2 linked regions of the Homo sapiens genome follow. The protein of the gene in region 1 purifies or fractionates together with the protein of each later gene. This does not show direct contact. Each region holds a gene or a part of one and is shown on either strand. Other genes may lie near its edges.

Region 1 (4,425 bases):
AGGACTGGCTGACAGAATTTGGTTTTGCAGGGAATTTCTTTAGGAGGAGCTATTGGGGAAGGTCAGGAATGGCCCTATCTTTAGTTCTCCAAGAATGACCTGGGATGGGTAGGGGGTGCCTCCATTTCGGTTGGTTTTGAGTGTCTATTTTTCACATTAGTCTTTTTGATGATCCACATGTTGCAAAAGGAAAATGTAAAAAACACACCCCTCAAATTGCTTTGTTTCAGAATGCTTTTGCACCTTTGACTGATGCCAAGACTAGGAGCCATGCTGATGATGTGGGTCTCGTTCTTTCTTCATTGCAGGCTAGTATATACCGAGGGGGATACAACCGTTTTGCTCCATACTAAATGACAAAACCATAAAAACCTTCCAATGTGGGGAGAAAGGAAGCTTTCCGAGGCCTGAGTATTGCAATACATGCAGTAGTACATCATTTTAGCAACTCTAAAAAAAAAAAAAATACAAATAAAAAGGAAAAAAAATTACATTTTTTATCTTATACCTCAGATATTTTGTTCTGTGTATTTTAATATTGTGGGTCTTTAATTTCTGAAGGTTCCGTAGTTTGGTTGCTGGCTGTAGGAGTTTTTGTGGTTGATCTAGACAGATGCTAGATAATGAATAAAAACTGGTTTAGGGCCATATCCAGAGTGCTATATTATGTAAATGAATTATATATGCTGAATATTAAGCTACTGGGGTTATCAGCTATTTGGGAAGAGTGTAAGTGACTACAGTAGTCATTTTTTTCTGCACCTGCATTATTTTATTTTGCGAAAGGGGAGGTTGGGAGGGGCTTAGGGGATTGGAACTGGGGTTTGGCTGAAAGAAAAAAAAAAAAATGTAACTGATGAATCTAAACGACCCACTGCACCAACAATCATTTATCAATGGTTCTAAGTTACTCATTGCCAGTTCAAGCCAAAGGTCATGTTGTTAAGGGGGTGCTTCTAGTAGCACTTGTGCATCTGAGTTGAATGAAGCTGTGCAAACCCACCCTTTAAACCATTCCACCCGGCAGTATTCAGCTTCTTAACCAGTCGCTATTTAGGAAAAAAAACCCACTAGTTAGGCCATCAACAAGCATTCTTTTTATATTTCTTCCAGTATAATAAATTATTGATATCACTGCTGACTTTTATATTATGGGAGGGAAAAAATAACATTAATAAAAAGGTGATAAAAAAGCACTGTTTCTATTTTTTTCTTTTTTTCCAAAAAAAGAAAGTAATAAAAACTTAAATTCTTTGTACCAGTTAAAAAAAATGTATAAAATTTACATCTGTGCAGTGGAGTTGTTAAGTTCTAGAAACAGTCTATGAAGCTTTAGTTTTAGCCTAGTAGAACAACTGTTAGAGACAGACGTATAATTTTTATGGAATTACATGATAATCATATTCGGATTTATAGAAGCATTTTACAAGTATTGCAATCATTGAGTAGAGATAATCATGGTATTTTCATCAGCTTGGTACTTTTTGAAACGTGACTGCGTTGTGTGAACAATCTGCAATTTTTCAGTCCGTGAGATCCTGCCCTTCCACCTCTTTCCCATACCCCCAAGGATTATCTCAAAATGATCTCTTTAGTTCTGTCTCCAAGGCCCAGGACACTTGTCAGAAGGATGCAAAAAAAGAAAAAAGTACATCCACCCTCTTAATCCCAAAAGAACAAAGTCTCCCCACCTTTCTCGGATGCAGGGCCAGAGTGACACAGCCGAAAAATTGCAGTTTGTCTGTACTTCTGTTTGAACTTTCCACGTTGTCCTGTTTACAAGTTAACTTAAGTTGGGGTATCCGTCACGGGTCTTCCTGTTTTGTATTTAAATAAAAACAACAGCAGCAGGCTGTCCCTGAGTAGTTTTGCTGCCATAGGTTAAGTCCTCATGTGTACAGTGCAGGCCCTGTGGCCCGCACTTCAGTAAGTTATCAACTCTCACCGCTGTGAACCTGCCAATCCGCTGTAACAACTCTGCTTTAAAACAAAACCAAACAAAACTTTAAAAAAAAATGTGTGATCCAGCTTTCTCTTGCCATCCTATGTGCATGCCGTAAGATCAGTTGGATATTAAACCATCAATAAAGTTTCACAAGATTTGAAAACAAAGTTTCTGTAGCTTCGATACCTAAGACAGACGATAGTGATCTTGAAAAGAGAAAAGGGGGAGGGGGGAGCTACTTATCAGCCAAAAGCATATAAAGTGTTCTTTTCACCAGACTTCTTTGGGTGGGTGAGGGGAGGGGCAAGAGGGTGTTTTATAGCATCACTAAGACATTCTCATTCCCCCACCTGGAAAACAGTGTTATGGCAATGGGTGCCTGGTTGATGTTCTTAAAGGAAACGAATTATTAAAACACTATGACATCCTCCAGAGGGAAGAAAGAGTAGGAGCAGGGGGCTATGGAGAATAAATTTCTCCCAATTGCCGCCTCAGATTTCAAAATCCAGAATTTGTATTGTGTTTCGAATCACAAACATAGAATTCTTACTGTGTTGGTTAAAGTAAAATTCATTTGCAGTTTTGATTTTCATCAATGAGCTGTACTTTCCCCCATGACTGTATGTAGTTTTAATAAAATCATTTAGAGTGAGTGAGTGCCAACCGATGTTGCAGAATCTTTTGTCTAGGCACTCCAAGATGCCAATAAGTCATTTTAAAATGTATGTCAGAGATGTAAACAAACATTTTGGATTTTTTTTAAACAGTATTTATTTGGAATGTTTTCATTTATCTAAATAACTATTGCTATTATGAATTATGGAAAATTAATATTATGTGTGGCATATAGTGACTTCTTAACACACACATCACGCAATCTGCAAACCCAGAAAATGTGTATATCTGTCTTTAGAAATTAGTGTTTATATCACTTACAGTGGTTTGTGAATAAAGAAAACTGGTTTGTAATATCAAAAAAATAAAAGCTTAGTCTGAAAAGGTACAAGTTGGTGTTCTGAGTTATTTGGCTTCCATGGGTTTTCTCTCTCAGTGGGTAGATTTGTTATCCACAGCTGTGATTGCACTTGGGCCCGCCCGGGGATGTGGGGTGGGTGTTGCCCAAGTGAGCAGGAGGCTGCCCTGGCCACCAGTAGACCAGATGCCTCCTGCAAGTTCCCTGCTTTTCTGGATTAAAATCTTTCCCTTCCTCACTCATTTTCCCAAAGAAGTCAGTGGAACTCACCCTGGCTGTTTAAGAAACTGAACTAAGCTTAGCTATCTCCTAGCATGGAAGTATCAAGTCTTCAGTTTAAAACAAAATACATCACTCATCTTAAATATGTTTGAGCTATTAATTACTTTTTGGGACACCTCGGATAAGATGAAAAAAATATAGTAAGTGCTAGAGTTCACATACATTGAGTGCTCATTAGGAGCCAAAAATCGTGTGTTCCTTATTTAAAAATCAGGGTTGAACTGTCCACCCCATTTAGTTACTTAATATCTTAATCCTATCTCATTATATCTTAATATTCCTATTAAGTTGGTATCACTGAAAGATTTTTAACATGTGCGTTCTAGAAACATATTCTGAGTGTGCACCCTGATTCTGTCAACTTGCTGGTGGCAATCCAGGATGAATTAAACCAAAGTGCTGTGCCTCAGTTTCCCCAACTGCACCTCAGGATCATCTCACTGACCTAATATTGTTATGCAGAAGAAAGCAATCTCAATAAAGTGCTTGCAGCAGTACTTCATAAACTGTAAGCTATTATCCACAGGTGAAGCAACTGAGACACAAAGATTCATTTCTCCAAGGTCACAGAGCAAGCAGGTGATCACCCTAGGATTCCAGAACGTGCACCCTTAACTGACGAGGCATGTTCTCACCTGACCAATAAGAACTTTATACATGAGCAGTTTAACCCTGTGTGCCACCTGCAGACTCTTTGTTCTGCAATCATTTTTTTTTCCACACTGCAGGTTGTCTTCACAGCATCTATCTTATTTCAGTATATTTAATCATCCCTTCTCTGTAAACTCCTTATATATGAAGACCATGCCGGTTATAAATCAACTTGTATTGGCCTATGTCAACTGATCCTTAAAGATAGGGTTACCCTTATTTTATGAGGACAGGAAGGATCCGATAGGTCATATGATTTGCCCAAAGCTGTATCTAGCAAGTGTTGAAAGAGGGCACAACATGAAGAACTGTCGGACCCTGAAGTCTGTGCCTGCTTTATTATCGATGGTGATGGTGGTAGTGGTGACATTAAATTTGGGATTCTTGTGCTCTCCTTACACAATATGTATGGATGTTAATTAAAACAAGTCGCTAGCTTTATCCTCACAGGTGGTGGGAGGGAGGATAAGGGTTTCCTAAAATACTGGTTTATACCTGAGCCCTTCTCCACTAAATAGGAGGATATAAGAGGTGATGACAGATACAGTTTACATTAGAATCTCCAAAAGCAGGC
Region 2 (4,821 bases), on another chromosome or scaffold:
CCGGCCCCCCTCCCCCATTTTGTTGTCACCACCTTACCACCATCCCATCCAGGACCCATATAACTAGGGTGGGCGAAGTATTGAAGGGCCACTTGACTGAGGCTACACCTCAATGTTACATTGGTTCAGGGAGCCCAGCTAGTACTGGCCGTTATTAAGAGTATCTAGACTACTGGTTTTCAAAGTGTTCAGGGAAACTTCTTTTTTTTTTTTTTTTTTAAGAGACAGAGTCTTACTTTGTCACCCAGGCTGGAGTACAGTGGCAAGATCATGGCTCACTACAGCCTCGACCTCCTGGGCTCCCGTGATTCTTCTGCCTCAGTCTCCCAAGTAGCTGGGACCACCGTGTCCAGTTAATTTTTTATTTTTTGTAGAGATAGTGTCTCGCTTTGTTGCCCAGGCTGGTCTCGAACTCCTGGCCTCAAGTGATCCTCCCACCTCAGCCTCCCAAAGCGCTGGGATAACTTACAGTTTACCTGTTCAGGGGAACTTTTAAGATTCAGGGGAGACACCTTGAGCCATGGAGACAGCAACAATGAGTGCAGCAGCCTGTAGTACTGTGAGACTCCCACTCCCATGTCAGCCAGAACTACACTGTTATCTGTGAGGTGTGAAGCTTTATATTTTATATTTTGAAGTTTCTGCCTAAGACTTAACAACACTGACATAGGTCGTGCTGGGGCAGCCTTACTCTTAGAATGAAGAGGGAGCAGTGTGAGAAAGCAAAGTGTGCATTTTTCCATGTATCACTTGGTAGAGCTGTAGACACAAACTGATCACTCAGCTTCAATTTCATTACAACTGCTGTTTCTATGCTTAAGTATGTGTGTCCCTTGATTTACATCAGAACCATGGATCCTAACCTCAACAGGCTGATCTAGATCAACCAGACAGCCAGGTCATAAATACATCCAGAGTACTCTATTACCTCCTTCCTTCCCTCTTTCCTTCTAAGGGAGAAGGTTATATACAGACAGGAAAAAAAGAGGACGTAGACTAGCTACGATAGCCCAGATACTATTAGGTACTTTATGTAAACAAATCACCTTTTATCCTCACAATAACCCTAGAGAGTAGGTGTTATTATCTATATGTGACAGACAGGATAACTTAAGCTTACAGAGAGGTCACGTCCCAGATTGCATAGCTTGTAAGTGATTGGTACCTGTTAACTAACTCCGAGGCTGCTGGCTCTTCCATTACAACACAGCCTTTATACCACCCTAAATATGTTGTGTTGAGGTTGCTATCTCCTTTAAGAAGGCTTAGGGTGACTGGTGTTAAAACTGTATGTAGACAGTAGCCAAGGCACTGGGATCCACACTGGACAGTGACGTAGGGAAAGGTTGGAGTAATATTGGTAACGTTAATGCTAATGAATGAGTGCCATATCTCTAGACCAGAGATTCAGCCACTAAGGGGAATGAAACTTAAACAGGGAGTCAGGAAACCTGGCTCTGGGCCTAGTTCTACCTATGTTAAGCCTTGGTTAGTCATTTTACTTCTCTAGAATCCACTTCTTCATCTGTTGGCAGAAATGATGCCTAAAATTCTGATTTCCATGCCTTCTATTTGGCCAGTTGACAACTTAAGGTAACATATTCCTTGTTTTTAAGGAGTTTAGCAGGAGAATGCATTCTGGTAGATTGCCATTTTTCTACAAAGCCTGCCTTTATTGGCCTTAGCAGGCTTCCACAGGGAGAGCTGTAATGGTAAGTTAGTCTACTCCTGTCTCTCTAGGGTCCTTCCCTCTGAAGTTGAAGTATTGGAGTCCATCTATCTAGATGAACTACAGGTGATTAAAGGAAATGGCAGGTATGTATTCAACCAGTGGTGGGCAGGAGTCCCCCTAGTAATGAGGAGAGGTTCTATGCTGAATTTGGGTCTTAAGACATTGTGAGCCTTGATTCAGAGATAATATTTCTCTTGTGTAGACAAAAGCTATTCCTTTAATCCTACCCCAAAAGAAAGAGTCCAATGTGTACTTCCTTTGCCCACTTCACTGTCTCAGCCCCATCCTCCCCAGCCCCCAAGCCCCTACCCAGTCACATCTGCGTGTCCACTTGATCCACCTGCAGAACTTCACCATGGGAGATCTACATCACTTTGCATCCTGCCACTGCAGAGGACCAGGATTCACAGTATGTCTGCTTCACTCTGGTGCTTCAGGTCCCAGCAGAGGTGAAGCCCCTACTGTGTGGCAGCAAAGGGAGGAAGGGGAGAGTCCCTGGGGTGGACCGCTTCAGCAGTAACTTGTTATTTGCCCCCACTAGTATCCCCATGAGGTGCCACAGATCTCTATCCGAAATCCCCGAGGACTTTCAGATGAACAGATCCACACGTAAGTTGAACCTGTCAGAACAGGGAAAACTCAGCTACAGCTTTGCCCGGTGACAGAAATGGGCAGGTCTAATATTTGGTTTGCCCTCTTCCTCCAGGATCTTACAGGTGCTGGGCCACGTGGCCAAGGCTGGGCTGGGCACTGCCATGCTGTATGAACTCATTGAGGTAAGAGGTGCGCTAGTCTGAGATATGTTCTTTCCTTCAAGCTAGAGCAGTTTCTAGCTGTAAAAGGGAAACCATGGGCCTAGAATCTTAAACGGATCTGGAGTCATTAGGTAAGGCCTAAATTAATCCAGAGAAATGAGACTCTTCTATTTGAAAAACTTCCCAAAAGACAGTTCAGTAGCTTCTCCAAGTTGCCTATGCCAGCATCTTGACAGAAAATGACTTTTCCTCTTCACCTTGAATTTTTCTTGCATCAGTTTCAGTATATGTCTTGTTCTCTTGGCACTGGCAACTGAAAGTGGCAAAAGATACGCATCTTGCTTGGGGGCGTCTTAGCCATAAATGAACATTTGAAGGCTAGACTGCCATTGGACCTGACTAGAAAAAGTCATGGTTGGCCAGGCACGGTGGCGGGCATTTGTAATCCCAGTTACTTGGGAGGCTGAGGAAGGAGAATCGCTTGAACCCGGGAGGCGGAGATTGCAGGGAGCCAAGATCATGCACTGCACTCCAGCCTGGGCAACAGAGTGAGACTCCATCTCAAAAAAAAAAAAAAGAAAAAGTCATGGTTCCTTTACTGAAAGAGCTTATACACTGCTTGATGAAACAACCCACATGAAGCAACACCTGAAGCTCCAATATACACAGAAAACTTTTATTGTTTGAGATTAAAAATATAAAATTAAGTACAGTTTTATTTTCCCCTAGTTTGTTTATTTATTAATTTTAATTTTTTTTTTTTTTTTGAGACAGTCTTAGTCTGTCACCCAGGCTGGAGTGCAGTGGTGTGATCTCAGCTCACTGCAACCTCCGCCTCCCAGGTTCAAGTGATTCTCCTGCCTCAGCCTCCCAGATAGCTAGGATCACAGGCATGTGCCACCACACCCAGCTAATTTTATATTTTTAGTAGAGATGGGGTTTCTCCATGTTGGCCAGGCTGGTCTTGAACTCCTGACCTCAGGTTATCCACCTGCCTCAGCCTCCCAAAGTGCTGGGATTATAGGCATGAGCCACCACGCCCAGCCTCTCTTAGTTTAAATTTTTAAGAAAAATGTTCAGAATAGAATGAAGGTGGGTGGCTGAGAGTCAAAGAGAGTGGGTTTGATAGGCCACCGTAGCAGTCCTAGGTCAGGCCTCCACAATGCAGCCTTGGACTTTGTGGAATTCCAGAGTACACTATTAGCTATTCAAATAACAATTCAAATGCATAGTTCACAGCCCAACTCAATGCCTTGTGAATTCTCTGTCCATTTGGGTTGTCCATGCCTTGTCATGCTTTCTGAAAGCTGACTTAGAACAAACACATTGCCCCATGGGGGAGTGATATTGAAGGGGGCTAATCAAGAAAGGCCTCCCAGAAGATAAATTTTAATTGAACATTTTTTTTCTCAAGGTGTATTATTTTCATCTCCAAGATATATTAAAAGTGACTTAATGAAAGGAAAAACAATTAGGTTGAATTTTGAAACCAGGAAGATCAAATTTTGGGGGAGGGGCAGAGATGTGGAGAAGGATTGATTCCCAGCAGAGGGAGCGTCACCAAGCCAGAAATGCATAAACACAAGGTAACAAACTGGCCTGCTAGGAGCCAAGTCTAGCCAGTCACTCCTAGGAGTAGTAGACAGGCCTTGCTCACCGTTCTTCCCCCTACCCCCGTTTAATCAGTGTCTTCTCTCCTCAGAAAGGGAAGGAAATTCTCACAGATAACAACATCCCTCATGGCCAGTGTGTCATCTGCCTCTATGGTTTCCAGGTGGGTTTCTCTCTTGGGACCTGGCATTCTGTTTGGGACCAGCAGATGAGGGCTGTGAGAGAGCTCTGACTTAGTGCCCTACATCTGCCTTCCCTCTAGGAGAAGGAGGCCTTTACCAAAACACCCTGTTACCACTACTTCCACTGCCACTGCCTTGCTCGGTACATCCAGCACATGGAGCAAGAGCTGAAGGCACAAGGACAGGAGCAGGAACAGGAACGGCAGCATGCTACAACCAAACAGGTAGACCTCACTGCACCTGCACACTCATCTGACACCCTTAGGCACAGCCTTTCACAAACTTTTCCATCTCTCCACTCCAGTGGCTCTTCACTTTTTCAGGGTCATAGATACCCTTGAGATTAATGAACTCTTACCTCTGTCCAGAATAAAGGGCATCCTTTTTTTTTTTTTTTGAGATGGAGTCTCACTCTGCCACCCAGGCTGGAGTGCAGTAGCACAATCTTGGCTCACTGCAACCTCCGCCTCCTGGGTTCAAGCAATCCTTCTGCCTCAGCCTCCCGAGTAGCTGGGATTATAGGTGCGAGCCACCACGCCCA

The links. The genes of interacting proteins can lie anywhere in the genome.
Region 2: the proteins of RBFOX1 (region 1) and RNF25 purify together in Homo sapiens (affinity purification with mass spectrometry; 2 studies listed by BioGRID and IntAct, with this or other methods). This does not show direct contact.

What each region holds. Positions count from the first base shown.
Region 1 is NC_000016.10:7,710,393-7,714,817, forward strand, and holds the end of RBFOX1 (RNA binding protein fox-1 homolog 1), read left to right. Parts: exon of another isoform or gene 1-230; coding exon 231-353; 3' UTR 354-2,948; downstream 2,949-4,425. UniProt on the Homo sapiens protein: RNA-binding protein that regulates alternative splicing events by binding to 5'-UGCAUGU-3' elements. Regulates alternative splicing of tissue-specific exons and of differentially spliced exons during erythropoiesis.
Region 2 is NC_000002.12:218,665,599-218,670,419, reverse strand, and holds part of RNF25 (E3 ubiquitin-protein ligase RNF25), read left to right. Parts: intron 1-1,740; coding exon 1,741-1,815; intron 1,816-2,078; coding exon 2,079-2,181; intron 2,182-2,273; coding exon 2,274-2,341; intron 2,342-2,438; coding exon 2,439-2,508; intron 2,509-4,189; coding exon 4,190-4,261; intron 4,262-4,360; coding exon 4,361-4,504; intron 4,505-4,821. UniProt on the Homo sapiens protein: E3 ubiquitin-protein ligase that plays a key role in the RNF14-RNF25 translation quality control pathway, a pathway that takes place when a ribosome has stalled during translation, and which promotes ubiquitination and degradation of translation factors on stalled ribosomes.